Linked DNA regions of Homo sapiens: all the other regions are linked to region 2. The links come from fine-mapping of genetic effects on gene expression. Tissue or cell type: whole blood. Region 2 holds a variant in brackets; each other region holds the start of a gene. Each region is shown on its reference strand, or each on the opposite one.

Evidence for each region. PIP is the estimated chance that this variant, and not a neighbour inherited with it, causes the effect.
Region 1: it holds the start of R3HDM4, and the variant in region 2 is the best candidate, but not a certain one, in a credible set for the expression of R3HDM4 in whole blood (TOPMed, PIP 0.80).
Region 3: PAQR9 starts here. The variant in region 2 is the best candidate, but not a certain one, in a credible set for the expression of PAQR9 in whole blood (TOPMed, PIP 0.71).

What each region holds. Positions count from the first base shown.
Region 1 is chr19:906,875-917,052 of GRCh38, forward strand. It overlaps R3HDM4 (R3H domain containing 4), which reads right to left and starts at 6,345. Exons shown (of 8, transcript NM_138774.4): 1 at 6,213-6,345. The coding sequence starts at 6,283. RefSeq lists an enhancer at 2,395-2,689 and a silencer at 6,163-6,502.
Region 2 is chr2:8,610,865-8,621,769 of GRCh38, forward strand. The region is part of intron 1 of LOC105373411 (a long non-coding RNA gene); the gene reads right to left. Among named protein-coding and RNA genes, the nearest start is that of LINC01814, 33 kb to the left of the region's middle. The variant C/T (reference allele first, on the strand shown) is at 5,189.
Region 3 is chr3:142,958,735-142,969,639 of GRCh38, forward strand. PAQR9 (progestin and adipoQ receptor family member 9) reads right to left here and starts at 4,940. Exons shown (of 1, transcript NM_198504.4): 1 at 1-4,940. The coding sequence starts at 4,602. The coding sequence ends at 3,469. It overlaps PAQR9-AS1 (PAQR9 antisense RNA 1), which reads left to right and starts at 5,324. Exons shown (of 5, transcript NR_125393.1): 1 at 5,324-5,364; 2 at 5,731-5,902. RefSeq lists an enhancer at 1-773 and a silencer at 3,969-4,154.

The DNA.
Region 1 (10,178 bases), not on the chromosome of region 2:
GTGCCATCTCTGCTCACTGCAACCTCCACCTCCCTGGCTCAACCGAGTCTCCTGCCTCAGCCTCCCGAGTAGCTGGGATTATAGGCGCCCACCACCACGCCTGGTTAATTTTTGTATTTTCAGTAGAGACGGGGTTTCACCATGTTGGCAGGCTGGTCTTGAACTCCTGACCTTAAGTGATCCGCCTGCCTCAGCCTCCCAAAGTGCTGGGATTACAGGCATGAGCTACCACGCCCGGCCCTCATTATACAGATTTGTAAACCAAGGCACAAAGTCACCGCCCAAGCTCCCATTGCTGCAAAGAGGGCAGCTGGAGAAGGAGGTGGTGGACCATGCCCTCAGCACAGAGCACAGCAGCCGACGGGTACTCAGTGGGAATACAGGGTCATGTTAAGCCAGCGTCTCTGAAGCTGGATCAGCCTGAAGCTGCCTCCCTGAGGCCGGAGCACTCTGTCCCATGCCCCAGATTCACCCACAGCCCCCCCTGAGGCCCCGGGGCCTACTTCTCCACCCCAGCAGCTGGACAGGGCCGATAACAGAAGTGACATCCGAGGGGAGCCCTCGGGGAAGTCAGAGGGGGCGGGGCTCGGTGACACAGCTCAAGCCCTCCCAGCAAGGGGCCTGGTATCACCCCATATTACAGATGAAGGATCTGAGGCTTGGAGAGGTGGGGCTGTCCCCCGTCACCACCCAGACAATGCAAGGAGCTGGATGTGAACCTGGGTCTGACCCAGAACCCCAGAGCTACCCTGCTTCCCTCACCACCCCTCATACCAAAGCCCCACAGGCCTCTCCTCCAGGCCCACAAGGACCTGCCTGGTCCTTCCCCTGCTCCAGCACAGCCCATGGCTCCCCAGCATCCCAGGGCCAGGCCTGGCTCCCCCTTGGCCTAGCACTGCAACACGAGGGCTTTCGCCTGTTTTGTTTGGTATCTGAGGGCTCGCCACCCTCCCCTGGGTCTCTAGTGCTGAGCTGAGCACTGGAAATCGAGTCCCACCATCAGATGGAGCTGGCTGACTTCAACCAGTTTCCAGCAGGAAATTAAGAAACATCTTCAAGCTTGTCATCCCAGCACTTTGGGAGGCCGAGGCGGGCGGATCATGAGGTCAAGAGATGGAGACCATCCTGGCCAACATGGTAAAACCCTGTCTCTACAAAAATACAAAAATTAGCCAGGAGTGGTGGCGCACGCCTGTAGTCCCAGCTACTTGGGAGGCTGAGGCAGGAGAATCGCTTGGACCTGGGAAGTGGAGGTTGCAGTGAGCTGAGATCGCACCACTGCACTCCAGCCTGAGTGACACAGCAAGACTCTGTCTCCCAAAAAAACAAAAACAAAAACAAAAACAAAAAAACATCTGGCCTCTGGGGTAGACAGGGGGGCCTGGGAGTCACCGACACTCCTCTCCAGAAATGGAAGGAACAGGAAGACCACATCAAAATCCCCATGCCTGGCCGGGCGCAGTGGTTCACACTTCTAATCCCAGCACTTTGGGAGGCTGAGGCAGGTGGATCACTTGAGGCCAAGAGTTCGAGACCAGCCTGGCCAACATGGTGAAACTCCCGTCTCTACTAAAAATACAAAAAAATTATCTGGGCATAGTGGTGGGCGCCTGTGGTCCCAGCTACTCAGGAGGCTGAGGCAGGAGAATCACTTGAACCTGGGAGATGAAGTCTGCAGTGAGCCGAGATCACAACACTGCACTCCAGGCTGGGTGACAGAATGAGACTGTCTCAAAAAAAATAAAAATAAAATAAAAAATAAAAAAATCCCACGTCCAGCCACAGGCCCCTCCTCACAGTGCTCCAAACTCAGGGAGCCCCGGTCTCTGCCTGATGCACCTGCTCATTCCAGCCTCAGCTCTGTGTTCACCACCCCCAGGAACGGCCCCGCCCCCCACCTAGCCCAGTCAGCCTTACCAGGAAGCTCTGGAAACCAACCGGCCCCAGCCGGCCCGTTTACTTCTTTGCTCCTTAATCACTAGCTCACTAGGCCCACAGAACAAGACAGGGTCCGCCCCCCGCCCACCGCCGCCCCCCGGTCCTGGCCTGTGACCGGCCCACAGCGGCGCTCACTGCCTGTTTGTTGAATGAAGAACTAAACTTCTGTTGACACACCTCCCAAGGGCTGGTTCATCTGTTTCCCACGCCACTCAACAAGACCACTTTACAGACGAGGAAACTGAGGACCCAGCGGGGGTATCTGAGGCTTCCTGGACCCTGAAGGCTCGAGGATGTGTGTCCACAGAAGAGGGGGGCAGCCCAAGCTGGGGAGCTGCTGGAGTTTGGGGGAACAGGCCTCCCGGCCACTCCCAATTCTACTCCTTGCAGATTTTGAGAGGGGAACTGTGAACCCTCAGTCCCTCGAGCAAAAACACACCTTTCCCAGCACTGGTCCCTCCCCCAGGAACCCACTAGAGACAGCAAGAGAGGAACCGACTTGTGCATCAGGAAGCCAGGGCTCAGGGCGGAGGTGACTCAGCCTGGGGTGGGGCAGACTGCGGCGGCCCCCAGCAGTCCCCAACCCCCCACCAGGACACAGCTGGCAGGTAAACACCCAGAGACTGACGGCTGAGAGCGGAAACATGAGTGTATTTACATAGTTACATAGGAGTCACTACACCTGGGCTTCAAGACCAGGGTGCCAGGCGTGGTGGTTCACGCCTGCAATCCCAGCACTTTGGGAGGCCGAGGCAGGTGGATCACCTGAGGTCAGGAGTTTGAGACCAGCCTGACCAACATAGTGAAACCCCGTCTCTACTAAAATTACAAAAATTAGCCAGGCGTGGTGGCACATGCCTGTAATCCCAGCTACTCAGGAGGCTGAGGCAGGAGAATCGCTTGAACCTGGGAGGCAAAGGTTACCATGAGCTGAGATCGCGCCACTGCACTCCAGCCTGGGTGACAGAGCAAGAACCTGTCCCCCCAACCCCCACCAAAAACAAAAAAAACAGAAGACTCAGGAAGAAGAGCCCATTTTGAGGGTAAATGCCCACACCAGGTGGTTCAAGGCCCCCTTAGAGGAGACGTTACGTGGGTGCAGTGGCTCACGCCTGTAATCCCAGCACTTTGTGAGCCCAAGGCAGGTGGATTCCTTGAGTCGAGGAGTTCGAGACCAGCCTAGGCAACATAGTAAGACCCTCGTCTCTACAACAAATTAAAAAATTAGCCAGGCCGGGCGCAGTGGCTCATGCCTGTAATCCCAGCACTTTGGGAGGCCAAGGCCGGTGGATCACCTGAGGTTGGGAGTTCGAGACCAGCCTGACCAATATGGAGAAACTCCGTTTCTACTAAAAATACAAAATTAGCTGGGTGCGGTGGCACATGCCTGTAATCCCAGCTACTCAGGAGGCTGAGGGAGGAGAATCGCTTGAACCTGGGAGGCAGAGGTTGCAGTGAGCCGAGATCGCACTACTGTACTCCAGCCTGGGCAACAAGAGCGAAACCATCTCAAAAAAAAAAAAATAGCCGGCATGGTGGTGCACACCTGTGGTCCTAGCTACTCGGGAGGCTGGGGCAGGAGGATCGCCTGAGCCCGCAGGTGGAGGATGCAGTGAGCTGTGATCAAACCTGGGTGATAGAGTGAGACCCTGTATTAATAATACTACTACTAGGCCGGGCGTGGTAGCTCACGCCTGTAATCCCAACACTTTGGGAGGCCGAGGAGGCAGGATGGCTTGAGCCCAGAAGTTTGAGACCAGCTTGGACAAGTTAGCAAGACCCTGTCTCTAATATGAAAAACAAAAACAAAAACAAAAAAAAAGCATCCTCTGCTCCAGCCTGGCCAATAGACCGAGACTCTGTCTCCAATCAATTAACCAATCAACCAATCAAAGACGCATCCTTTCTCCTTCAGATACAAATCACCTCGGTAGAGATGGGTATGGCCTCTGAGTGGAGATAATAGTGATGATATAATAAACATAATAACGATGATAGTAATAAATGATCATTTAAAAATAATACTAGCCGGCGCGGTGGCTCACGCCTGTAATCCCAGCACTTTGGGAGGCCAAGGCGGGCAGATCACAAGGTCAAGAGATCGAGACCATCCTGGCTCACACGGCAAAACCCCCGTCTCTACTAAAAATACAAAAAAATTAGCCGGGCGCGGTGGCGGGCACCTGTAGTCCCAGCTACTCGGGAGGCTGAGGCAGGAGAATGGCGTGAACCCAGGAGGCGGAGCTTGCAGTGAGCCGAGATCGCCCCACTGCACTCCAGCCTGGACGACAGAGTGAGACTCTGTCTCAAAAAAATAAACAAATAAATAAATAAATACAAATAATACTAAAGACCGGGTGCGGTGGCTCACGCCTGTAATCCCAGCACTTTGGGAGGCCGAGGCAAGCAGATCGTGAGGTCAGGAAATCAAGACCATCCTGGCCAACATGATGAAACCCCATCTCTACTAAAAATACAACAATTAGCTGAACGTGGTGGCGGGCGCCTGTAATCCCAGGTACTGGGGAGGCTGCCGCAGGAGAATCGCTTGAACCCAGGAGGTGGAGGTTGCAGTGAATGAAGATCGTGCCACTGCACTCCAGCCTGGGCGATAGAGCGAGACTCCGTCTCAAAATATTAATACTACTAAAATAACCAATAAAACATTAACGATAATTAGTAATGAGACAACGGACACTCCTGTTTGCTGGGCCCGCCGCAGTGCCAGCTCGGTAACCCCCACCACTCGGAGAAGAGGCCACACTTACTATCCCATTTTACAGAAGGGGAAACTGAGGCATGGAAGCATGAAATAACCTGCCCAGGTGGCGCCGTCCGCACACGGAGGAGGCAGGAACGGAACACGCGCCGCCTCCTCGCCCTCCACCAACACGGACCCCAGGGGCGCACCCTGGGTCCCCGGGTCCCTGTGCGGGCCGGGGTGACACACGGCTGACCCCCGCACAGACCGCCCCGCTTCCGGGTCCCCCGGGAAGGACGCGCGGGCTCCTGCTTGCCAGGTTTTAACCCACAAGGGTTGTAGGGATTTACCCAAAGGAGAGCAAGGAGCCGGGTCTGCCCGGAAAGGCAGGGGGCGCGGACAAGCCCAGAGGGCGAGTGGGGCCGGGCGTGCGGCAGGGACCAGGCTGGAGCGCATGGCCACGTGGGTGAACCCCGACCCGCGGACAGGGGCCCAGGACCCTCTGGCGGGAGGCTCCATGGCTGGCACCTCGGGGCCCGGGGAGTGGGGGGGCAGACCCGGGAGTGGGGGCGCGGCCCCGGGGAGGTGGGGGGGGGGGTGGACCAGGGAGTTGGGGGGCGGACTGGGGAGGTGGGGGGACGGACCCGGGAGTGTGGGGGGCGGACCAGGGAGTTGGGGGACTGACCGGGGAGTGGGGGGACAGACCCGGGAGTGGGGGCGCGGCCCCGGGGAGGTGGGGGGGGTGGACCAGGGAGTTGGGGGGCGGACTGGGGAGTGGGGGGACAGACCCGGGAGTCGGGGCGTGGGCCAGGGCAGTGGGGGGGTCGGACAGAGGAGTTGGGGGGCGGGCCCGGGAGTGGGGGCGCGGACCCGGGAGTGGGGGCGAAGACCAGAGAGTAGGGGCACGGACCAGGGAGTTGGGGGGTGGAACCGAGGAGTTGGGGGGCTGACCCGAGGAGTTGCGGGGCGGACCCAGGAATGGGGGCAAGAACCAGGGGAGTGGGGGGGTGGAGCAGGGAGTGGGGGGACGGACCCAGGAGTGGGGGCGTGGATCAGGGCAGTGGGGGGGCGCGGACCCGGGAGTGGGGGGAGTCGGACCCGGGAAGTGGGGGCGCGGACCGGAGAGTGGGGGCACGGACCGAGGAGTTGGGGGGCGGACCCGGAGAGTGAGGGGGTGGACCCGGGAATGGAGGCGCGGACCAGTGCAGTGGGGGGGCGGACCGGGGAGTGGGGCGCGGACCGGGGATTAGGGGGCGGACCGGGGAGTAGGGGGCGGAACAGGTAAATGGGGACGTGGATCCGGGTCCCCTCCCCCAGCGAGCCCCCGGAGCGCCAGGAGGGTGTCCCCGCTGAGTAACAATGAAGACCCCCCACCCAGCCTGGGGGTCCACAGCGGGCGAGAAGGGAAGGCAGGACAGGCTGAAGCCCCGGAAGATGAGCAACGGGAGCGAGGGGAACGAAGGGAACGAGGGGAGGGAAGGGAAAGGAGGGGAGGGGAGGCGGGGAGAGGATCTCAGGGGAGGGAGCCCAGCCCGCCCCCGGCGCCCGCCGCGCCCCGCCCGCCCGCGCTCACAGCAGCCGCCGCCCGCCCGGGGTGCCCTCCGCCGCCTCCGGGCCGCACTCGGGGTTCTCCAGCGCGACCATGGCTCGCACGCTGTCGCCGCCGCCGCCGCCCGGCAGGGCCTTCACCGGGCCGGGCAGGAAGTGACGGGCGCCCGGAGGCGGGCAGGGGCGGGGCCTGGGGCTGCGCGGCGGGGCGGGGGCGCCCACCTCCCGGCTGCCGGGAACGAACGCGGAAACCCAGGCGCGCGGGGAGGGGATCCAGCCCCTGGGGGGACGAACGGGGAAACCGAGGCGCGCGGGGCGGGGATCCAGCCAACAGGGAACGAACGGGGAAACCGAGGCAGGCGGGGCCGGGATCCAGCCATCAGGGAACGAACGGGGAAACCGAGGCAGGCGGGGCCGGGATCCAGCCCCTGGGGGGACGAACGGGGAGACTGAGGCGGGAGGCGGGGCCGGCCACGATCCCTACACCCAGAAATCTAGCTCCGGGAAGGAGGGACACCTAGGCGAGGGGTCGAAAACTCAACCACAACCCTGCGTCCCGATCCGGGCTGCGGACTGAGCCAGGAATCCAGCCCAGGGAGGCGAGGAGACACGGACAGGGAAACTAAGGCCTGAGCATCGACGAGGGAGGGGACGTTCTTCTTGGAGGCAGAGGATGGCGGAAATTAAAACTGCCCGAGCCTTCCTTCCACCTGCCCCTCCCAGCCCTGGAGCCTCGGCTAGGCAACCCCTTCCCCTGCTTAGCCTCAGTTTACTCTTCTCTAAAATTAGGCCTGGTGGCCAACGTGGTGGCTCACGCCTGTAATCCCAGCACTTTGGGAAGCCAAGGCCAGTGGATCACTTGAGTCCAGGTGTCTGAGACTAGCTTGGGCAACATGATGAAAACCCATCTCTAAAATAAAAAGAAAGGGCCGGGCGCGGTGGCTCACACCTGTAATCCCAGCACTTTGGGAGGCCGAGGTGGGCGGATCACGAGGACAGGAGATCGAGACCATCCTGGCTAACACAGTGAAACCCCCTCTCTACTAAAAATACAAAAAATTAGCCGGGCGTGGTGGCGGGGGCCTGTAGTCCCAGCTACTCGGGAGGCTGAGGCAGGAGAATGGCGTGAACCCGGGAGGCGGAGCTTGCAGTGAGCCGAGATCGTGCCACTGCACTCCAGTCTGGGCGAGGAGCGAGACTCCATCTCAAAAAAATAAAATAAAATAAAATAAAGCAAGAGGGAGGCTGGGCACGGTGGCTCGCACCTGTAATACCAGCACTTTGAGAGGCCAAGGCCAGTGGATCACTTGAGGTCAGGAGTTTGAGACCAGCCTGGCCAACATGGCAAAACCCTATCTCTACTAAAACTACAAAAATTAGCCGGGCGTGGTGGTATGCACCCATAGTCCCAGCTACATGGGAGGCTGAGGCACAAGAATCGCTTGAACATGGGAGGCAAAAGTTGCAGGGAGCCGTCCACTTCACTCCAGCCTGGGCCACAGAGTAAGACTACTCTGTCTCAAAAAAAAAAAAAAAAAAAAAAAAAATAGCCAGGCACAGTGGCTCACGCCTGTAATCCCAGCACTCTGGGAGGCCGAGGCGGGTGGATCATGAGGTCAGGAGATTGTGACCATCCTGGCTAACACGGTGAAACCCCATCTCTACCAAAAATACAAAAAATTAGCCGGGCATGGTGGCAGGCGCCTGTAGTTCCTGCTACTCAGGAGGCTGAGGCAGGAGAATGGAGTGAACCCAGGAGGCAGAGCTTGCAGTGAGCCGAGATTGTGCCATTGCACTCCAGCCTGGGCGACAGAGCGAGATGCTGTCTCAAAAAAAAAAAGCAAGAAAGAAAGAAAAAGAAAGAAAGAGTAAGGAGGAAAAAGAAAAGGATGAGAAACTGTGGATGGACTCAAAAAAGCGTGCACTGTGAGATTCCTGTAGATAAATGTGCAAAGAGGTGAAAAAGGACAATGGAGAGATGTATCAGGAGTGACTGGCAGGGGAGCTGGGCATCGGGAATGAGTGGTTTCCCCATCCATCAGGCACAGGGTAAGGGTAGATGCTCAAAGAATGGACCTGAACATTTATTCGTGAGAGAGGGAGGCAACTCCAGAGAACTTCCTGGGCCTTCCTCCCATTCTGGGTTCCAGGGCTTCCCTTCAGGGGCCTGGGCCTGTCCTGTCTGTACCTTCTTCTTCTTCTTCTTCTTCTTTTTTTTTTTTGAGAGAGTCTCGCTCTGTCACCCAGCCTACAGTGATGCAATCTCAGGTCATTGCAACCTCCACCTCCTGGGCTCAAGTGATTCTCCTGCCTCAGCCTCCCAAGTAGCTGGGATTACAGGCACCCTCCACCAAGCCCGGGTAATTTCTGTATTTTTAGTAGAGACCAGGTTTCACCACGTTGGCCAGGCTGGTCTGGAACTCCTGACCTCAAGTGATCCACCTGCCTCGGCCTCCCAATGTGCTGGGATTACAGGCATGAGCCACTGTGCCCGGCCTATTCATTTTTTTTCCTCCCTTTTTTGTCTTTTTTTATGCAAATGGAAGCACCTTTTTCTTCGCTGTGTATTACTCCATGATGACCAAATGTCTTGGACTCTGTTGCAGGATGGACTTTGGGGGAACCTCCTGGATGTCATCCTGGGGTACACTTCCAGCTGTGGGATTATGGAGTCAAGGTTGTGCTGACCAGGCTGGGTGGCTCATGCTTGTCATCCCAGCACTTTGGGAGGCTGAGGCAGGAGGACTGCTTGAGCTCAGGAGTTCAAGACAAGCCTGGGCAACCTAGTGAGATCTTGTCTCTACAAAAAAATTTAAGGGGGGAGGGGGGAGGGATAGCCTTAGGAGATATACCTAATGCTAAATGACGAGTTAATGGGTGCAGCACACCAGCATGGCACATGTATACATATGTAACTAACCTGCACATTGTGCACATGTACCCTAAAACTTAAAGTATAATAATAATAAAATAAAATAATAAATAAAATTAAAAAAAAAACTTTATTTGCAAAAAAATAAAAAATAAAAAATTTAAAAATAAATTAGCTGGACCGGGAGCAGTGGCTCACGCCTGTAATCCCAGCACGTTGGGAGGCCGAGGAGGGTGGATCACCTGAGGTCAGGAGTTCGAGACCAGCCTGGCCAACGTGGTGAAACCTGGTCTCTACTAAAAATACAAAAATTACCCGGGCATGGTGGCAGGCACCTGTAATCCCAGCTACTCGGGAGGCTGAGGCAGGAGAATTGCTTGAACCCGGGAGGCGGAGGTTGCTTTGAGCCGAGATCATGCCACTGCACTCCAGCCTAGGCAACAGAGCGACACCCTGTCTCAATAATGATAATAAAAGGCCGGGCGCGGTGGCTGACGCCTCTAATCCACCACTTTGGGAGGCCGAGGAGGGTGGATCACGAGGTCAGGAGATCAAGACCATCCTGGCTAACACGGTGAAACCCTGACTCTACTAAAAGTACAAAAAATTAGCCGGGCGAGGTGGCGGGCGCCTGTAGTCCCAGCTACTAGGGAGGCTGAGGCAGGAGAATGGCGTGAACCAGGGAGGCGGAGCTTGCAGTGAGCCGAGATGGAGCCACTGCACTCCAGCCTGGGCGACCTGAGCGAAACTCTGTCTCAAAAAAATAAATAAATACATAAATCAGTAATAATAATAATAATAATGAGGCTGTGGCGTTTGCAAGGTGCCCTCCACCTGGTTCCCGCTGCTAGTGTCCCTGCGGGTATCAGACACCCCTTGTCAGTCATGTGGGACACATTCAGTCCCAAACCACCAGATCGGGGACGTCCCTCACCTGCCCTGAACTTTCCATGGCTCTCCAGGGTCCTGGGGACAAACCCAAGCTATCCTCACTCAGGGTCTCCGCTGAGGGCTGGCCTCCCCGCCAGGCTGGGCCCACCCCCTGGAGCCCCAGCCCCTACGAGGGTCAAAGCCCTTCCCATATTCACAGGCCTTAGAGTTCGCGCCTTGGCTGGGCTC
Region 2 (10,905 bases):
AGAAAAAGAGGTTTAATGGACTCACAGTTCAACATGGCTGGGGAGGCCTCACAATCACAGCGGAGGTGAAGGAGGAGCAAAGGCACATCTTACATGGTGGCAGGCAAGAGAGTGTGTGCCAGGGAACTGCCCTTTTATAAAACCATCAGATCTCCTGAGACTTATTCACTATCACGGGAACAGCACAGAAAAAACCCACCCCCATGATCCAATTGCCTCCCACCAGGTCCCTTCTAGGACACATGGGAATTACGGGAGCTACAATTAAAGATGAGATTTGGGTGGAGACACAGACAAACCATGTCACTGTGCAAATATGTAGAGCTGGATTTGAAGACCAGTTTCAAGAAGGAGGGAGAAGGCTAAAGCAACTCATTCAAGGTGAGACTATGAAGGGGACCCTTGGTCCCATTGGGGGCCGTGCCTCTCCTCTCCATCCACGCCAGTGGAAGGAAACCAGCCAGGTCCAATACGGCTATCGTGTGGCAAAGCAGAAGGCAGAGCTCCGGGGAGAATACCAACCCTACCACACTGCTGCCCGATTGAGGATGGGCTAAGGGCCTCTGCTTCAGGCTTGTTTTTGAAGCTCCCACAGCCTTGTGTGACTCTTGGGATCCTGGAAGTCACAGATGGGCTCCTGGCTGGCCAAGCAGTGCAAAGTGCTAGCCAGCCCGCCTTTGTGCCCACAAGAAGAGGGTTGTGCTGTCCTTGATCTTTTTCATTCCCTGGTGGGTTTATTTGGGCTTTGATCTTTAACCAAAGATCAAATCAAGATCTTTTATCAAAGGTGTTTGTATAGAGAGACACCCTGAAAAGAAAATGCCTTTGTTTGATTAAAAAGTATCAGACACCTCCCTTCCCTCAATGAGTGGTCGGGGTCTTCCACCTCGGAACTGAACACACCAGAAAAGATCAAACATTTCTCTGAGGACGTTTCCCACTGAGACCACGCTGCTGTTACTTTCAAACCAAGGAGAAATGTCTAACCTGCCAACAGCGATCATAAAGTTTGTCGTCAAATATTGAGAAACATCAGAGCACACTATGGATGCATGGCCTTGAACGCTGAAAGCCCTTGTGGTGTTGCCTGGGTCACAAAAGCAATATATCTTCCTGGAGTGATGCTTTTATAGGTTACTGCGGAGTTTTCAAGCTGTAAAGGCCCTGGGTAAGCTTGTCTGACCACCCCCCGACCATGTTGGTGATAAGAAAACTGAAACCCAGCGAGCGAGGACTCATCCAGGGTCACGGAGGTGCTGGACGCAGAGCAGCAAGTGACCAGAGCTTCCATTAGGGCCTGTTTGGAGCTGAATTGAGACCCCCAAAATTCATATGTTGAAGTCTTTACCCCCAGTATTTCAGAAAGTCACTGCATTTGGAGAAACGTTTGTTAAAGAGGAGATTAAGTTAAAATAGGGTCATTAGGGTGGGTTCCAATCCAATTTGACTGGTGTCCTTTTAAAAAGAGGAAATTAAGGCCAGGCACAGTGGCTCACACCTGTAATCCCAGCACTTTGAGAGGCCAAGGCAGGCAGATTGCTTGAGCCTAGGAGTTGAAGACCAACCTGGACAACTTTGTTGGACCCCATCTCTAAAGGAAAAAAATATATATACAAATTAGCCAGGTGTGGCGGCATGCACCTGCAGTCCCAGCTACTCAGGAGGTCGAGGTGGGAGAATCACTTGACCCTGGGAGGTCAAGGCTGCAGTGAGTTGTGATTGTGCCACTGCATGCCAACCTGGGCAACATAGTGAGATCCTTTCTCCAAAATAATAAAAATAAAGGAATTAGGATGCAGACACACATGGAGAGAACACCACGGGGAGACACAGGGGGTAAGGCAGCCACCTCCAAGCCACACTCAGAGGCCTCAGAAGCAGCACACCCACCAAAACTAGATCTCAGACTTCCTGCCTCCGGGCTCTGAGAAGCCAGACTTCTGTTGTTGGAGCCCCCAGTCTGCGGCCCTTTGTCAGGGCAGCCCTGAGCAGCAACACTGTCCCCCTCTGCGTCTCCATGTCACGGCAACCACGTGGGGAACAGGGATTTTGAAGGACATCATTTCTGCACACTTACTTAAAGAGATGCTGGCAAAGCCCTTTTCATGAGTAGACACAGTATGGGAGAGTCCCTTTGATGTTGTTTGTATTGCGCAGATAGTGATAGAAGGTCATGGCAATCATTTTCCTGTGTGATCAGTAAGCTGTCTCTGCAACCACCTCCCAAAGAAGCCATTCAGAATAGTTGAGGCAGGGATGAGATCTCTGGAGTAACTGTGTCCGAGGCATGGTGCTCCCTTCCAGGGATAAGATCAAGTTACTTTGTTTGAAAAAATCTAATGAGAGTCTCATGGATTTATTTTCTTGCTTCCTGAACTGAACTGAGAAGGAAACCATAGGGAGGATTTTTTGTTTGTTTTTTGAGACAAAGTTTTGCTCTTGTCACCCAGGCTAGAGTGCAGTGGCGCAATTTCAGCTCACTGCAACCTCTGCCTCCTTGGTTCAAGCAATTCTCCTGCCTCAGCCTCCCAGGTAGCTGGGATTACAGGTGTGCACCACCACCCCCAGCTAATTTTTTTGTATTTTTAGTAGAGATGGGGTTTCGCCATGTTGGCCAGGCTGGTCTCCAACTCTTGACCTCAGGTGATCCACCTACCTCAGCCTCCCAAAGTGTTGGGATTACAGGCGTGAGCCACCGTGCCCGGCCCATAGGGGGAATTTCTAATGGAAGCATGGATGGAAGTAGGCAGAGGACAGAGTAAAAGAAAGCTTTAAAATGGAACTTGCTCATGTGTGTTCAACTGCCTGTGAGTGTCCATGCACTCTGGACCAGCATTCTGGGTTGCAGAGACGGAGATGAAGGTGCCATGTGGCTGAGGGCTGTGGGTCATAGGCCCTGTAGCACAGTAGTCACACATGTGGACTTGGAGCCAACCTGCCTCCACCACTTGGCTGTGTGAGCTTGGGCAAGTTCCTTGACATCTCTGTGCCTTGGTTCCCCATGATGTTACATGGAAGCCCTAGCAGTGCCTCTCACAGGGTGATGTTAAGGCTCCAGTGAGTAAAGCATGTGGTGCTCTCGGCACAATGGAGGCCGCACAGTAAGGCTTTACCCTTCTGGCTTGTGGGTGAAGTCAGACCCTCTGAAAAGCAATAACTAACAATGCCAAGAGTATCCTAATGAGGGCACATGAAGGGCTTTGGAAACCCCGCATGGGGAGCCCGAGACTTGGCCTACAGTGGGTGGGCACAGATGAACCCTAGGGGGGCCTGGGGAGCTGACTCCGGAACACAGATCCGAGCCTGTTCTGGAAGGGACAACCCCTGTTGGCAAAGAGGGGACAAGGGGAGCCTTGTGAAATACTGCCTGTTTGGGGAAATGTGGGGAGTTTGTTGTAGCTGGGGAGAAGGCTGTGTTGGGGAGGGTGGTAAGAAATGTGACTGGAGAGGTTGAGAGGGTCCAGCCACAACTTTATCCCAAGAGCAAGGGGTTTAGCAGGAGGTGGTGTGGTCAGATCCGCAGCTTAGAATGACTGGCTGCTCCTGCTGCTGGGAGGAAGCTAGATTGGAAGGACAGAGGCTGTAAGCAAGGAGACTCGTAAGTCCAACAGGAGATGATCAGGGCCCTAACGGCAGTACTGCAGAGGCACCACATCCCTTCCCCTCCCTGAGCACGCGGGGAGGAGACCGTCTCCCGGAGTGCATTTCCCAGCCTCCTTTGCAGTGAGCTGAGGGGCCGCAGGACTGAGTTCTGACTAATAGAATGGGGCAGAAACGATGTAACCCATTTCAGGCTTGGCCCTTAACATCTTGCAGGACCCTCTCATCTGCTCTTACTTTCTGCAGCAAATTCAGAAGTACTGGTTCCAGATGGCAGAGCTACAGCTCGAATTAGACGAGATCCCAGAGTGGTGACCTAGAGGTGAGTTGCCAGAAGACCAGCCCGGCCATCCAGACACTGTGTTCAGCCACTGAGATTGCAGGGATATTTGTTACAGCAGCATGACCTAGCCCACCTGACTACGCCAGGAGGACTTGGGGCACTTGGAGAATGAGCAGGACTGGGGGAGAGAAAGGAGTCTAGGGGTGACTTCCTGGATGACCAGGTGAATGGTGGCACCATTAACTGTGGCAGGAGATGCTGGGTGCTAAGTCAGTACTTCTATCTTAGACAAGTGTGTTTGATGAGCTTAGGCAACAAGCAGGAACCCCCTGCAATACGTGCATGAAGCAGCATCAGGGAAAAGGCTAGAGCTGTGGACTTGGGTTTGTTGGCCTCCAGGTGGTCGCTGATGTCTTGTGGAAGGAAAGAGAGTGTCTGGGAGTGCCTTGGAGTGTGCAGGGCAAAGGACACTAATGCACAAGGAAAAGAAAAGGAGAAGGAGCCGGTGAAGGAGCCAGAAAGAGTCTGCTATTCGGGAAGGGGAAGAATGAGGAGAGGGTGATCAATGCCAAGATGCTGATCAACAGGCAAGTCTGATGCAGACCAAATGCACGCCCTGGATGTGGCACACAGTAGGCCCTGGAGGGGCATACAGAGCCAAGCCGGGTCAGGGGATGGAGGGCGGGCACCAATACCATGGTCTGAGACATAAAAGGTGCAGTGGGTGTCCCCGGGAGAAGCCCAGCCCAGAAGGGAAGGAGGGAGGTAAGGGAGATGCTGAGTTGAGAGATGCTCATGCCAAACAGAGAGAGATGGCAGAAAAGCGCAGCAGAGGGGAGGTTGGAGAAGATATAGCAGAGAGAGGTGGCACTTGGTGCAGAGACATCTAACCCCAAGGAGCAAAGGGCATGGTGAGAGATGGAGAAGAAAACCTCCAACTGCCAAGACCTTCCCAGAGCAACGTTCCCCCGACCCCACCCCAGAGGCTTCCAATTCCCTAAGATGGCAGCCAACTAGGGCTGCCGCAGCCTCTCCAGTGTGCCAGCCTGCTGGTGTCAGAAACCATTCAGCCCCATGGCCCAGGGACCAGAGGTTTGTGCCCTCTGCACGTGGCCCTGGTGCAAGGCCCTTGGCTGGGCACCGAAGAAGATAACAAAGTGTTTATGACAGTCGCAACCCTTCAGGAGCTAAAGCAGTCCAGGAGCAAGATAAGGCAAGTTCAGAAATAACTCATCTGCAGCAGACAGATAACTGGTAAGTGCCAGGGAGAGGAGCAGATAATGTGTGAGGGAGTTCACAGGGAGA[C/T]TCCCTCCTGCTGGAAGAGATCAAGAAAGAAACACTGACGCAGGGCCTGGGGACCCAGGCCTAACCTTTGCATGCCAGTGTCTCTGCCGGGTTCTGGAGTAAATTGTCTCTCCTTCTTCTCGCCGGGGCTCCCTTCTCCATCCCATCAGCTCCAGCTCCTGCTCCCACCGTGGTCAGTGAGCTCGCGCTAGATGAGCATCCTGTTCCTCCGATCACCAGCAGCATCAGAAATCTGATGCATGAACAAGAGCAAAGTCACAGGGCTCCATAGACACCTCCTGGGATTGGGGCACAGACGGAACTTGAGCAGGACTTTAAAAATGAGCAAGTGTTAACAGCTCATGGCAGTCGGCAAGACTGGCTACAACCACAGCACCTGCTCTGACAAATACAGACCATCCTCCTTTATCAAGTCCTCCCTGTTGGATAACGAAAAATCCAACAGGTAAAGTTTGCTTCTCAGATCTTCTGAATAGTCATTGAATTCAGGCCATAAAATAATGTCAAACGCTTAAAAAAGGGAAGGGAATGAGGCATCTTGCGTACTGCACAGAGCAAACTGAAAACCCAGATTTATTTCCATAATGTGAATTTTTAAATATGATACTGAAATGGGCACAAAAGTCAATAACTTTATTAAAATGATTTTGCATTTCTTAACTTGATCTTTTCTGACACTACCCTTTGGAGTCACAGATGAGAAAAGCAAGACACATGACATGTGGTTCTACCTAAGGCAGCAAAGTGAATAGTGGAAAGACAAGCTTGTTCCAGAAACAGCATGGCGGGGAAGGGTGTCTGTCGTTCTAGATCTTTCCAGCTGACTCTGGGGAAAGGATGCAGGGAGAAGAAAAGCTCCTTCCAGGGACTGCCATTTTTCTGTGTGTACATGAGCTTCCGAGGGACGGTGGTCACCTCCAAGGTGAAATTTGTGAGCCACACACTCAAAAAAGGTTGGCGGGCCCGGAGGGGAGTCCAAAGGGAAGCCCCTACACACACAGACATGGAGATGTGCTTGCCTTAGGTCATGAGGATGCCAGAGCGGCTTCCTATGATTATTCAAGCCTGATGGAATTTCACAACTGGTGCGAGATGAGCGCAAGGTGTTTAGACACCTTGCAAGAGCTGGAATGCCAGGAGGGGCGGCCGGGGGGCGGTCTCCTCCAAAATTCAAACCCCCAAACAAGTCCGACTTTCTGCAGACAGCTCCTTCGCCATTCAGTAGGGACCTCTCCCCCAACACGGGACCAGCCCCTGAACTTGAAAATCCTACTTGGCTTCCCTCACCCCAAACACATCGGAGTCGCAAGCCCCACCAGGCCCGTTTCCAAGCCCCCACTCCTGTGTCTCCAGGAACCACTTGCCTTGTCTTGCCTTGCCTCAGAAGCATCATTTGGAAGCAGAAGCCTGTGGCTTCATTTCTTTTTATTTTAGAGCTGATCTGCTAGAAAAAGGTATTTTGCGAGGCGCAACGGAGGTAGAATGTCTCGTCAGCTAGCCACTTCACAGACATATGGCCTGCTATCCCACCAGTTAGGAAGTGATTATTGGAGCTGCACAAACAGATTTTTTTGTCAAAGTGGAGGTGTGATTTTCTCAGGTTCTGTGAGAACACACACACATATTTTTACCAACCCAATCTGTTTTCCAGCAGCCGGGTGGCCGCAGGGCCTGGACACCCGCTTGGTGTTTAGGAGTCATGAAGGGTGCCTGGCGAGGTCCCTGGAGGCTGCAAACCTACCTGGCAGGAGCCAAAGACCCCAGGTTCATTCTGTGACCACGAACAGAGCCTCTGCCTGCCCTTACCTGTGACAAGAGGGATGGCCACGAAAGCTGCCTCCTTGCACACAGAACCAAGCACCAGCGTTCACCCTACTATGCATCTGAGAGCCGGGACTTTTTTTTAAACTCACCACTGCTAGTTTAGTTCTAAAATCTCTTTGAAATAAAAATTAAGACACACAAGAGATACTAGGGTAAAGATGGCAGATGAAACACGTTCCTTTACTTCCATTCTCTCTCTAAATCCATCAAAGACAAACATTTTGTTTTGTTTTATTTTACAGTGTAGCTTTGTGCTATGGAATGTGGTAGCCCCTAGCTACACGGGCTACATTTACCTTTTTATTAAATCAATTCTAAACTTCAGCTTCCAGATCACACTAGCCACATCTCAAGCACTCAGCAGCCTCACAGGGTTAGTGGCTGATATACTGAACAGCATAGAAAAAGAATGTTTCCATCAGCATCACAGAAAATCCTATTGAACAGCACTGGGACGGAACCTCCAGGAGCAAAATCTCGGGAGAACACACTGGTAAAATGCCGGAGGCTGGGAAGGGAAGAGTGCGTGGGGGCTGGCTGAGCACGCAGGATACAGCTGAGCCCTACACCAGGATTGGGGGGAGCCAAGAAGCCAACTCACCCTTCGCACTCAAGGAGGCCTGAGCAGGGGCAGCGGAGGAAGCTCACGTGCCCTCACTCATAAAGAGAAAATTCTACACTAAGGTCATAGACTTTATTTAAAGGTTAAAAAAAAAATCCTTCTATTCTCTGCTTTGACAAATATACCTTCTTGGTGATGTAAAAGGCCCATGTGTTAGTTTCCTAGGGTGCCATGACAAAGTACACACACTGGGCGGCTTAGGACCACAGACGTTTATTCTCTCACTTCTGGAAACTAGAAGTCCAAGATGAAGGCGTCTGCAGGGCTGGTTCCTTCAGAAGGCTGGGAGGAATCTGTTCCTGGACTGTCTCTTAGTGTCTGATGATGACCGGCACTCGCTGGCGCTCCCTGGCCTGGAGATACATTTCTGCCTCCATCTTCCTATGGCTGTCCTATAAGGATACCCATCATCTTAGACTAGGACCCACCCGACTCCAGTATGACTTTATCTTAACTAATTATACCTCCAATGAACCTATTTCCAAATAAGGTCATGTCCTGAGAAACTGGAGGTTAGGACTGCAATGGATCTTTTTGAGGGGACACAATTCAACCCTTAACTGCAGGTTCAAATGGATAGTCCTCCTTGGACTTCTCAGTTCGGCACCAAAACACAGCAACATGGGAAGATCCCTGATCGTGGCCCATTCCCCTTCCTTCCCAGCCCAGCTCCATCCTGCACCTGAGGGAGCTTGCATGGCTCCATCCAAACCTCCCACAACCCCTTGCCCCCAGCCACTCCTCAGCCTAGGTGGCTCACACTGGCAGCATGGTCCACTCTGGAAGGAGGGCTCTGGAAAGAGCCCCCCCGCCCCGGGGCCCAGGGAGCAGGGTTGGGATCCTTTGGACAGGGAATTCCAAGGCCTCCTTTCCCTGGAGAATGTTCTAGAAGGAGGAATGAGGTGCGCACTCTGAGTGGGCATGTCCTCTTGGCCCCTGAGAAGGGGCACAGCTAGAAGAGGGAACATACACTCTCTGAGGCCGTGGCCCAGGTCTAAGGGCATTCCTGCCAAGAAGCAGCCAGGTTTACCAGCGGAACCCAAAGAGGGCTCAGGATTTGGGGGTGTCCACAACTTCTGAAAATGAGAAGGAACCTGCTCACAAAGTAGTGAGGTGCACAAATCCCCTTTCCGACACCAGCAAAAAACTGAAGGCTTATTCTCTGGAGAGGAGACCAGGTCTCTAGTTGGGGAGATCCCAGGCACAGCTGAAGGTCAAGGCACCACACAGAAGTAGCAGATTAAGGGAAGGTTTGTATATGGAATATTGACCTGCGATAGCCCTGCTCCAGCCCTCTTCTCTCTCTCGGCCTTCAGAACGTCTAGGTTGTCACTTCCAAGAGAGGATTAAAGGGCTTTTTTGAGCTCAAGCCAGTGCAAGAGGAAAAATCTAAAGATGCCGATATTGGTAGTTCCCCAGGAAAATAGTCCAACCAGATTCTTTTACAAGGAAGTCCACAATCAACAATCTTAATCACACATTTAGTGCTTCCAATCAACTTTTCATGCCCCACTCTTAAATATAAACCAGTGACTGAGGGTCTCAGCTGAAGAAAGCCCCTGACATGAGAGAGCGTGACCAAAACAAAGAGAAGAAGGTAACTTGGAGGAAACAGAGATTATGCATAGAGAAGAGAGAGTATAAAACAGGAAGCTATTATCAGTATCCTCAGATAGACAATCAGAGATGGCATCCAGGCACAAACACGTTTGTTTGTTTGTTTGTTTGTTTGTTTTTTAAAGAATATTTAGAGAACAGAAAGAATAGTTGTAAGCTTAAAATGCCGTGTTATAAATGTAAAGTTCATTCGAAAAATTAGAAGACAAAACAGAGGAAATAGAGAAAATAGAGCAAAAAAATGTAAAATTAGTTCAAGGGGTTCAACATATGAAGACAGAGTTCCAGAGAGAGAGAGAGAAACCAAGGAAAAGGTGGGAAAGGAAAGCATCATGACATAGTTTAGGAAATTTCAGAGAACTGAAAGACATTAATTTCTAGCCCGAAGGACCCAATGAGCACCCGCCCATATGACAGATGAAAAGATACCCAGCCTAAGCCACCCGCATAACATTTACAAACACTGAGGACAAAAGACAATCTTACAAGCTGACAGGGAGATACAAATAGGTCTTCTACAAAGGATCATGAATCAGAATAATTTTGATTCTCAAGACAAATCCTGGATGCTAGACTACAATGCAGCAAAAATCCAGGGGAAAATGATTTCCAACCCTGAATGCTGTACCAAACCCATTATCAACTAAGTGTGAGGGTACAATGGAGATGATGTCAGACATTCAAGGTGTCCAAATATTTGCCTCCCACGTCACAGGAATGATCAGGAAATTTGCTCCACCCAAATAAGAGAAAACCATGAAAACCAAGCCCTGTGTCCCTTGACTTTCTACTTACCAGTGAAATGCGGGTCTGAAGGATTTAAAATGTTGGGTTTTATCTTTTTTATTTGTGTGTGTGTTTGTGTGTGTGTGTGTGTGTGTGTGTGAGTGTGTGTGTGTGTGTGTTGCAGGAAGGATTGGAAGTTTCCTCAGTATCATCCCTTCATGGTTCACCAGGAAGATGTTACCGGAAAGGGGTCCCAATCCAGATCCCAAGAGAGGGTTCATGGACCTTGCGCAAGAAAGAATTCAGGGCAAGTCCATAAAGTAAAATGAAAGCAAGTTTATTAGGAAAAGTAAAGGAATAAAGAACAGCCACTCCTTGGCAGAGCAGCTGGGTCTTATCTTTAATATGCTTCCTTTCATGAGGATACATTCCACTTCGTCATCTGACTTACTGGTACTTGTGTCATGAGAGAAAACAAGCCTATTCCAATTTCTCAATTTTTTTGAAATCAACGTCAATTCCAAATTCAGTGCAGGTAGCGAGCCAAATGCATTTATAGCCCACTTGTTTTCTCTTTACATATCTTCCTTCATGGATCTTGCAAATAGCTTATTTTCCATTTCCATAATTTTTCATTATAACAGGAAGAGCCAGGAGAGCCGAGATAAATGAAATTATTAAATGGTCTCTTCAGACCCTTTCTTTATCCCAACATTTATCCATTCACTCATCTTCTAACCAAAGGTATATTTACAAGTAAGAAACAAACACGTGAGAGAATCGATGATTTCATCAGTGCTACCAAGAGGCAACAAAACTGAACGCCTTCACCCTCTTCATTTACGTTTCCACTGCCAGCTCTTGCAGACTCAGATGGACAGAAGGGAAACCAGGCAAGGGAGCTCAAAGACTAGGGAGATCACGTCCA
Region 3 (10,905 bases), not on the chromosome of region 2:
TGTCCAGCTCTGTAGCCCCATACTTTCTCCCTGGGCTATTTATAGAAAGTGTATGGCTAGTGGAAAAGTTCACATTTATTTTTACAAGCCAGTCATGACATGACCGAGGAACTCATTTCCTCTCTCTGGGAAGGTCATCCTCTTCACCTGAGCTGCAAGAACGGCAGGGAAGAAAGGAACCCCATTAGCCAACTAAGTCAGTCTGAGTCAGCCCCAGAGACCAACCCACGGGGTGACAGGCACCGAAGTCAAACACCTTCATTTTCCAGGCATGACTCTATGGCGCCGCTCCTTGAGATGTCATCCAGATCATGACTAACAAGTAAAAATGAAACATATTACATAATATGCTTCAAAATTCTACTGCCAAAATAGGTTGTACATAGATAATGGACTGAATTCTTATTTATAATTTGTCCTACATTTCAAACAGCTGAACACAATAAAGTAAAACTGAATTTTAATGTGGCAAAATGGAAAGTGTGAAAAATATTTTAAAATATATATTGTTCTGATTGCCACATTACCTTGAAATGTGTAATAAACCTGGATAGTTCCGTGCAAATGGGGAGATTCAAAGTAAATATTCACTTCTAAAACATCAAGAAATTTAATAAATTCAGCAAATAAACTGTATAGTTTAACAAATCATCCCTGGCTTTGACTAGTGTATATGGTACCTATTTGCAAACATGAAGTGAAGCCAAACCAGTTTTCAACTAGAATGTCCTCTTGTCATTATTATATGTGGTCTACAAAATCTAAGATGGAATAGGAAAGAACAGTGGACGAAGGAAAAGGCAAAGGGAAGAGGAAAGTGAATCCTCATTCTCTCTGGGACATACTGGGTGCTGAAACCTGTGTGGCAAAAAGTGTGTCATCTCACTGTACTCATGCAGCATAATCACCTGAAAAATGATATGGGTATAATTTTATCCTTAAGTGGCCTCTCCTTAAGGTCAAAGACAAAGGACAAGAAGAGAATTCTGTCTGTGGACCTGGAAGAACAACAAAAAATTAAAATGACAAATTTGGTGTTTTAGTTATTGTTCTCAAACTCATTAATCCTTGCTAGAAGTCTTCCTCCTGAAAGTTCCTTCTGAAATTGAGGTCCCATTTTACAAAGAAACTACATAATACGCTTCACCCTGTTTCTCTAGCTTCCAAACCAATGTTCTTTGGGGCTCTAGAAAAAACAACAATGACATGCAAATAAATTTGCATGTGGAAATATCCTGATTTCCACAGTTGTCCTTGAATGCATCTATTGAATTAAGTTACAGCTGAGGAATAACATCTGTTGTAAGTACAAATTAGCCTCTGTAACCTAACAGGAATCTCCTTGCACTTCACAAAGGATGAGACACTGACACTCGTCAACAACTGTGCAAAGTGTATTTACAATCTCAGTAAGAGATTCTAAATTAAATATAGACATATATAAATTTAACTTCTATGTGCAAAGTAACACACACAAGGATACCGGTTCCTCCAGGGAATTGTGCTGAGCTTCTCTGTTTACAGAGAAGTGATTAAAAGCATAAACAAAACCAGCAATTGTTTTAGAAGTGCCAGCCTACCAGTGCTGAGGTAAGTGTTCATCTACCTCATATGCATGATCTAAGTTATATCATAAAATCAAGATGCACCTGTGGGACATGATCATCCTGCCCAAGACCTTCAACTAGGCAGTGGAGATCAAGCCCAAGATAAGCCACCACTACCTGGGCAAGCTCTCCATCACCTACAAGCCAGTGAAGTACAGCTGGCTGGGTATGAGGGCCACCCACTCCTCCTGCTGAGCCAGTAAAGGCACACATGTCTCCAAACAAAACAAAACAAAAAAAACTCCCAATCAATGACTTATTTGGCTTCTAACAAAATGACCTACCAGGAAGTGTGGTAAGTATTTAAACAAGTCATCTCAGTGGTTTGTGTTAATCTAGAGTGGCCATCTCAATTACAGGTTAGCATTTGTAAGAAATGTCTAAATAACATTGGCTAATCTGTTTGTTAGAAAGGATCTCAGGGACATGCTCATGAATGTTTCAAGGATTTAGGGTGACTGCCCATCATTTCCATAGTCTGGAACCAAATCAAACTTCAGCGTTTAACTAGGCAAGTGTAATCTTATTTAACTCAAAATTTTCAGTGACAACTCAATAATGTGCTCCTGCCTTTCATAATAAAACTGCCTTGTTTATTCTTGGATATTATGTTTTTAATTTTAAGCAAGGATGGATGGCATCAGTCTAGAACTTCTCCCATGGCTGCATTAGAAACACATCTACATTAGAGGGTTGGCTCTTTGTCCTTGTTGGGAACCCAAATGCTCTGCACGCTCCTGTAAGCTATCTCCAATCCCACCAAAAACTTGAAACCAACACCATCTTCTGCCCTCCTGGATGGACCATGAAACCTTGATTTTCAGTCAGGTAAGAAAAGCTTATTCTTACTACTCTCCCCATGTAAGAAACTGTGTTTGAGGACCAGTCATTTGGACTTTGCTTCAAAAGGCACATTTATTCCAGTGGCAATTTAAATAAGTAGAGAAGGAAAAAAAAAGATTAAAAACAAAACAAACTAACAAAAACCAGGATGGGTTTTGTGGAATACATTAAAGTAAACAAAAATCTGGGGTCTATACAAACCACTCGAGCTCCTCACCAATAGTTTAACCAGAGTCCCTAAGGTAGAATTCACAGTTGTATCATGACACACGCCTTCAGAAAACACTGTTTAAGAAAGTAATTGAGAACTCTCAAGCAGCTTCCCCTGATGTCCAGTTCAAGTGTATGCAATGCAGAAGGCTGTGAAATTCAAAACTATGTGACAAAGAAAATTCAGTGCGTACCACAGGCTTTGATAAATTATGAAAAATCAATGTATATATTACTATTTAAATAACATCTGAAAAACATTTTGAAATAATTAACTTGTGTTCACATTCCATGCATTTTCTAGCAGGTTAAGCCCTGGGTTTGCGTCTTTGTGCCTGTTTCCTACAAAGCTCCATTCTTTTGACAAATCCAAGCATTCCTCAGACTGAAACAGAAGTTCCCAAGGATTCTATTTACCCTCTTTACTGTGTACCTGACCTCACAGGGGCTACTCCTTATTACCAATGGCACAGATGATTGGAAAAGCAAACTCTTTGGGGCTTTATTTGGGATTTTACTCACTGCCTTTGAGAAATCCCTGGATGTCAAAGACATCACCTGAATTTTTTCCAGGGGCAAGAACAAGTGACTATCTCCCTCCCGCTTGACCACCCCTGCCAACCTCCCTACTTCAAAGCCTCCAGTGGGTTGGGATCCCTTTGTAGCAGTGAACTTTTTCCCTATGGTTTTGCAGCACCTTCCTTGAGCAAAGAAGAAAACACAATGAAATTTGAAAACAAACCAACAATAGCAACAACAGAAACTCCAAACAGATGGGCGAACCAGTAGTCTCCTCCAAGGCGGAGGCTCACTTTTTACTGCAGAATTCGGAGCTGTTTAGGAACTTCCTGATTACCAGCCCCAGGCAGACCACCAGCAGCAGCATGTAGCCCACAGTACCCGAGAAAGTGGGTGCGGCAGGCGGCGCCTGGAGGAACTGGCGCAGGCCCTCTTCTACGTAGTACACCTGGTCGTAGATGCTGAGGAAGGTGAAGATGTGGAAGAGCTGGTGGCTGTGGCCGATAATGTCGAAAAGACCCGGCTGGATGCGCTCGGGGATCTTGCTCACGTTGAAGAAGGCGGCCACCACCAGCCAGAAGTAGCGGCGGTAGAAGTGCACGAAGAGTGTGGGGTTCTCCCCACGCAGGTCGAAGAGCCAGCTCTCGAGCATAATGGGGCAGGCCATGCTGAGCGGCATGACGAAGACGAAGGTGCGCAGCGCGAACGGGTAGGTACACCAGTCGGTACGGCTCTTGCAGCAGGCCACAGTGCAAGCCACCGCCAGCACGAAGGCCACAGGCAGCACCAGGGCGCGGTAGGCGGCGATAAGGCGCGTGCAGTCCACGTGCCAGCCCAGGCGCTGCTGCAAGTATGGAGTCATGACTCTGGCATCCAGCAAGCTGAGGCCTGGCAACAGGTAGTAGTAGTAGGCCACCGTGCTGCCGAAGCCGTAGTAGCTGATGGACGCGTAGTCCAGGTAGAAGAAGGCGGCGCGCAGACGCAGCGACAGGCAGCTGAACACGTGCGCCGTGCAGCTCATGGCGAAGGTCAGCAGCACTCCCGACGCGTAGCACCACAACGGTAGCAGCCACGGGTGGTGGAAGGGCACGTCGCCGCCGCTCAGGAAGAACAGACGGCAGAACTTGCTCAGGAACAGCAGCAGCGGGATGAAGTGCGTCCAGAAGTTGAGCGTCTCGTTGGTAGGCTTCAGCACCGAGGCTAGGCACTCCTGGGCCGTGCACGGCAGACGCCGGTAGCCCGACAGGATGAAGCACTCCACGAAGTCGTCGGGCACCTCGTCCCAGCGCAGCAGCGGCTTGGCAGACGCTGGGGGGTCCCGGGAGGCGGCAGAGTGGGAGTTCCGGGCGGCCCCCGAAGCTGCCGGGGCCGGGGCCGGAGGGCCTTTTGTGCCCGCGCCCCGGGGCTGCAGGCGCCGCGGCATGGTGCCCGGGGCTCGGCTAGGGCGCGCGCAGGCGACCTCTGGCGCCGGCTCCCGGGCGCTGGGCAGCCCCCGCCGGCCGCCGTCGGAGCCTTTGTGCCCACGCCGGGGGCGTCGCTGCAGGTTTAGGAGAAGACCCGTGCCTCCGAGCAGCCGCTCCTAAAAATTAAATAAATCAATAAGAGAATCAATTAATAGGCAGCGCTGCGACCGCCAGGAGCGCGGAGCGCGCGAGGCTCAGCGGCTTCCTCGCCAAGCCCCTGCTACCGGCGCGCGGCCGCCCGCGCTGCGGCAGCGGCGGCGGCGCGGCTGACTGCGGCGGCAGCGCGGCAGCGGTGACTGGGCATCGCGCGGTGCGGGTGCCTCCGCCGCCGCCGCCCCCGGAGCGGGAGGTGGGGATGTGCGAGCCGAGGCGCGGAGGGAGGGACGGGCGCACCGAGGAAGGGCGGGGGCCTCCCAGGCTAGGGTTTCGCGGCCGCTTCGGGGGATAGAGTTGTCCCCTGTCTCGAGTTCCGTACCATCCCCCTCCTCGGGCCGCCGCAGCCCGGGCCGCCCCGTTAATGATTGATGCGGGGGCCGCAGGCTGGTCGGCGACGCGGCGGCGCGCGCGCCGAGTACTAGAGTCGGCCCTGGGGTTCGAAACCCGACAGCCACGCGGGCGTTCTGGAGGACACTGGGGAGCCGCGTTCGCGGGGGGCGGGGAGCTGCGGCTGCGGGGGGAGGGGAGGGCGCCGGAGCCGGGCAGGGCGGAGAGATGCGCCAGCGGTAATCTCCGGAGGTCGCCGGGGAGGGGGGCACTCCGGAAGTCGGGGGGCTTTAAGCCCGCGTCCGGATCGGGGCCGTGTCATTGTCAGCTACCTGGGGATGCGCCTCTCGCTCCCTCACTGTCTTTGCGTGTGTGTTAGTGTGTGTGTGTGTGTGTGTGTGTGTGTGTCGGCCTGTCTACGCACTACACGAAGGCTTAGTTGGTCTTCTTTCGTCTAGTGGGCGCACTCAGGTGCGTCACCATTCTGCCGTTTCCCTCGCCCTTGTCCTGTCCGAAAGAACCGTCCGCAAGCTGCCCTGTGGTCGCGCTCACCAGCTCTTCGAGCCGCAGCTAACCCATCTTCTTGTTTTTGTGTCTTTAACTAGGACTTCTATTTGGAACTGAGTCCGACAGCTCAGGACTGGCTGCTCAAACTCCACAATTTAATGAAAAATCTCAGATGATGACTCAGAAAACCTCTAATGATCTGAGGAATATATTAAGGGATTCCAGAGTCAAAGGCTGATCATGGAGGGCATTGATGAGGGAAGACTTCAGGTAGGAGGTGCATTCTAGCAGGAACTGAAGAGAATGAAGTCCAGTTGGTAGAAACGGAGGGGGTGGCTTGGATAAATCTTATATGTAATTAATCAGAAGTACCTGGCAGGTGGCTGGAGACCAGAAGAAAGGAACACTGGAAGAATGAAAACGGTTGTGATGCACTGCAGTGTGAAAATATGCCCTTGAGCCTTAAAGAAAGGGGCTTAAGGCCGGGCGCGGTGGCTCACGCCTGTACTCCCAGCACACAGATCACGAGGTCAAGAGATTTGAGACCATCCTGGCCAACACGGTGAAACCCCGTCTCTACTAAAAATACAAAAAATTATGTGGGAGTGGTGGCGCACGCCTGTAGTCCCAGCTACTCGGGAGGCTGAGGCAGGAGAATCGCTGGAACCCAGGAGGCGGAGGAGGTTACAGTGAGCCGAGATCGCGCCACTGTACTCCAGCCTGGCGACAGAGCGAGACTCCGTCTCAAAAAAAAAAAAAAAAAGAAAAAGAAAAGAAAGGCTACTTTCATCGCTACTGCACATCCTCTAAGTAGGTTAAGGAAGATTTACTTAGTAGAGCCTCAAGATGGATTTAAGTTATGGATAAGAATTATTTATAACTAGGATATCATTCAGTATTATAAGTGTCTGCAGTTACTTAAGGATGCTAGAAACAGTCTAGAAGTTTCAGTCTTCTCTCTGAAGTATACTTTCAAGTAGTAACTGATTTAGCAAGCTCTTACACAATTAGATCAAACGTGCGCTTCAGTCTTCTGCCTTTCTGCACTGCCACACATTCCTGTCTAGTGGATTTTTTTTTTTAGGCGTGGATTTTTAAGAAGTGAGATTTTGTTGTAGTTATTTAGCCAGTGTCTTATTTTAGTGTTTTCTGGTTTTCCACTGTTTGTAGCTTGTTTTAAATTGAAATCTAATTTCCTTTTATATCTGGACTGAGGACCCATGGCTATTTGTAAAATGGATTAAATTTAGGTGTTTTAATCAAGTGTAGGAATGATAAACTTGAATCCAGGGCAGGCCCGAACTTTTTTTTTTTTCATATTCCCTTTGTTACTCCACAAACAACCAGAGCTGTCACGTGTAAAAATGGTGATCCTATAATAATTCTTATATTTACCACACTCTTAGTTGCATAATCAGCTCGCTTACATAATCTAGAAAAATATAATAGAAAGTTCACTTCAAGCAAAACAATGGAATTGACTGTAAATGGGTATGCAAAAACTTGAGTTAGATAAAATATCTTTATGACAAAGAATGGTGAGATTGACTCTAATAAAATATGTTCTTTTAAAAAATCAGTATTTTATAAAGTAAAAAAAAAATGTTTCATGTTAAGTCTTTGAAAAAGTCTTTGTGATATCTGCCTTTGTCCTTTCTCACACATCCCCTACCCTGCTTGAGGCACAAAACCAGTTGATGCCATGGAGTGAGTGGTGTTCATGAAAGTTCACTGGTGCAGAGCCCAGTCAGCTGTCCTTGCTATACCTTGACAAAGCTCAGTAAAAAGGAACTAAGGAAACAGCAAAACTGACCTAACTTATAAAGTAAAACAGCAATATGGCTTTTCCTTAATTGCTACCAATCTATAGAATTAATTTCTCTTACTTTTTAAATTGAGATATAAAAATGTGGCCCCCAAATCCTGCACAGGCTGAGTTTTGTAGTTTGTTTTAACTCCAGCAAACTGTCTCTTGTCAGTGGGAACCATGCTCACATCCTCTGGACTTGGCTAAACAGAAGCAATGAGCAGGGTGCCATTCCCTGAAGGTGCATTGGGACATAAGGCATCTCTAAGGTAACCAGGACTGACTGCAAAGTTTTTGACAGACAAGAATCACCAAGTTACACTGGAAAGCCACTGCTGGCATTTAGAGGCAAATGCCAGCTAGTTCTATCAATTAAAGTTAAATCAAGACCACAAATGTGGTGTTGGTAGTTCAGTGGAGGCTCTGTACATCCAGGTGTTGAGGGGTCCTGGCTGCAAAATGCAGTCATGTGTCATGTGTTGAAACTGTAGCAAAAGGGATGAATGCTCTTTTCAGTCTGGTTTGCTTTGGTAATGTTCTTGTAGACCAACTACACGTTTTTGTTTCTTTCTACAGGAATAATATTAAGTATATGTAAAAATGCCACTGCAAATTTGATGTTGTTTAGTAAGGGCAGTTAGCTATCTGTAAAACCAGCAGAAAAATATGCTGTGTTATTGGCTAATAATATACCTATTTTTAGAGGAAATAATTTTTTCTTGTCTAATTTTTAGCCAGAAAACAACCAACTAAAGAAAGAAATAAAAAGAAAAGAAGAAAGGAAAGAAAGGAGAGAAAGAAAAGGAAAGAAGGAGAGAGAGAAGGAAGGAAGGAGAGAGAGAGAAAGGAAAGAAAAAAGAAGGAAAGAAGGAAGGGAAGGAAGGAAAGGAAGAAAGAAAAGCACAGCACTATGGACCTAGTGCTTAATTGTACCCAAGACTCTGTATTAAGAGAGAACTCTGTAGGGTTCAGTCCCTCTTCTCAGAATATATAGTTTAGGCTGGGCACGATGGCTCACGCCTGTAATCCCAGCATTTTGGGAGGCCAAGGCAGGTGGATCACTTGAGGTCAGCAGTACGGGACCAGCCTGGCCAACATGGCGAAACCCTGTCTCCACTAAAAATACAAAAATTAGCCAGGCATGGTGGTGCATACCTGTAGTCCCAGCTATTTGGGAGGCTAAGGCAGGAGAATCACTTGAACGTTGGAGGCAGGGGCTGCAGTGAGCTGTGATTGTGCCAGTGCACTTCAGCCTGGGCAACAGAGCAAGACTCTGTCTCAAAAAAAAAAAAAAAAATATATATATATATATATATATATATATATATAGTTTAAACAAAGTGCTTCCCTTTTCCCTAAATGGAAAACAGCCATGATCTGACAGGTCAAATATAGTCACTACCAAGTCATATAGTCTAAGCTTCCTAATTGTGGAAAATCTAATGGTATCAGGTGTAACTGTAGCAACCTCTAGTGACAAGTGCAATCAGAAAGCCAGGTAGAGGGCTGGGAGAGAGCAGTGGGAGACTGAGTTATCTGGCACTGTTCCTGCCTGCTACTGACTGGGTGACAGACATGTCTCTCTGTTTTTTTGTTTTTTGTTTTTAGAGGTGGAGTCTTGCCCTGTCACTCAGGCTGGAGTGCAGTGGTATGATCTCGGCTCACTGCAACCTCCACCCCCTGGGTTCAAGCAATTCTCCTACCTCAGCCTCCCTAGTAAGTGTAATTACAGCTGCATGCCACCATGCCCGGCTAATTTTTTTATGTTTAGTAGAGACGGGGTTTTACCATGTTGGCCAGGATGGTCTTGAACTCCTGACCTCAAGTGATCCGCCCACCTTGGCCTCCCAAAGTGCTGGGATTACAGGTGTGAGCCACTGCGCCCAGCTGACAGGCATCTGTTTTGAAGAAAAGCTAAGGGAAACTTGAGGATGCTTTTTGTTTTGGGGGTGGGGGGTTTTTTTTTTTTGGTTTTCTAAGGCTTTATGAAGGGAGTGACAATGCTACACTCCCCTCCCTCAGCAAATTCACCTATTTTCTTCCTGGGGTCTCTAGAGTGGTTTCACAAGACTAATGAAGGGGAAGAATAAAATATTACTTCTGCTTAAATAGATGTCATCCTTTTCCATGCACATGCTCTGTGAAGGTTTTATGATGCACTAATATGTAGTCTATGAAGATAATGTATAAATAATATGTTGGGACACGAGGGTGAACCAAAACACTTCACCTGATAAGAATGTGCGACCCAAACTGCTGACCTACTCTCGATAGTCCATTGCTCTTGTTTGTCCAGCCTGCTTCCATCCCCTCTCCCAGATCCAAGATGGATGCCATTTCCTGCCACTCAGATGGCTGGAAAGGCTGTTTGGGGTCACCATCTGTAAGCCAACAGTCCCCAACCTCTGACCAGACCTGCCCAAGTGCCCAGGCCTTCAGCCCCTTCTACAGCTTCCTTGACCTAGGATGGTGGTCTCTGCTCTGGAGCTGTTTTTCCCAGGTCTGCCCTTCCTGTTTCCTGATTGGAGCCTATATTGTTTTCCTACAAAGGCCTTGTATTAACTTACTATATTGAATGTAATTCAGAGTTACCTTTTGGGGAGGAGACTTGTTTTATCATAGGCTGTTGCTTGCTTTTGATAGAGCCTTTTGGATAGCTTCCATTTAACTTGAGAAACACTTAATACAAGTGTGTGAGCTAGATTACTGAGTTTCTTCTCCCCATTATTTATCAACAGTTCTCCTTGAAACAAAGATCTTTGCACATAGTAAGCACTTAACACATTGTGGCTGGGAAATTTTTTCAGTACCGTAAGCTTTTAAAAGGTTAGAACTTAGAGTCCTAGAATCTTAGAGTAGGACTGCCACTTAATCCTTAAAGTCATCTAGTCCAACTCTCTTCCCATTCGTTATAATTGCTTTGGTTTATTGATAATGTACTATATTCAGGTATTGTGATAGGCGTTTTACATATACTTAATTCTTAGAACATTCTTTGAAAGGTGAATGCACTAATCCCATTTTCAGACAAAAAACACAGAGGCTTCAAGAAGTTAAGCAGCTTGGGTGGCAGAACTGTAGTCAAACTTTATTCATTCCAAACCCCTTACCCTTTTCTTTATAGGATGCTGCCTCCTGAGAAGCTGTTGTGTAGCGAGCCTTGACCATCTCAAGGAAAGAGACTTACTGTCTTACACAGCTTCCCCTTCTATCTTAAGATGTTGTCATTGTTGTTAGAAAACTTTGTAAATAATTAAATGAACATAACTGATAAGAAAAACACCCTGTTGCATCTTGGCCCAAAGCACAGCCATAAGTGTTATTGAGTTGAACCAATAATATCTGGTTAGAAAGTCCCCAGAAATAATGATGCCAAATTAGGCATGTGTACAGTATATGTGGAATGTGATGGCTGGACATTGATTAGGCACATTTATTAAAAGAACATCTTCCTCCAAACAAATAA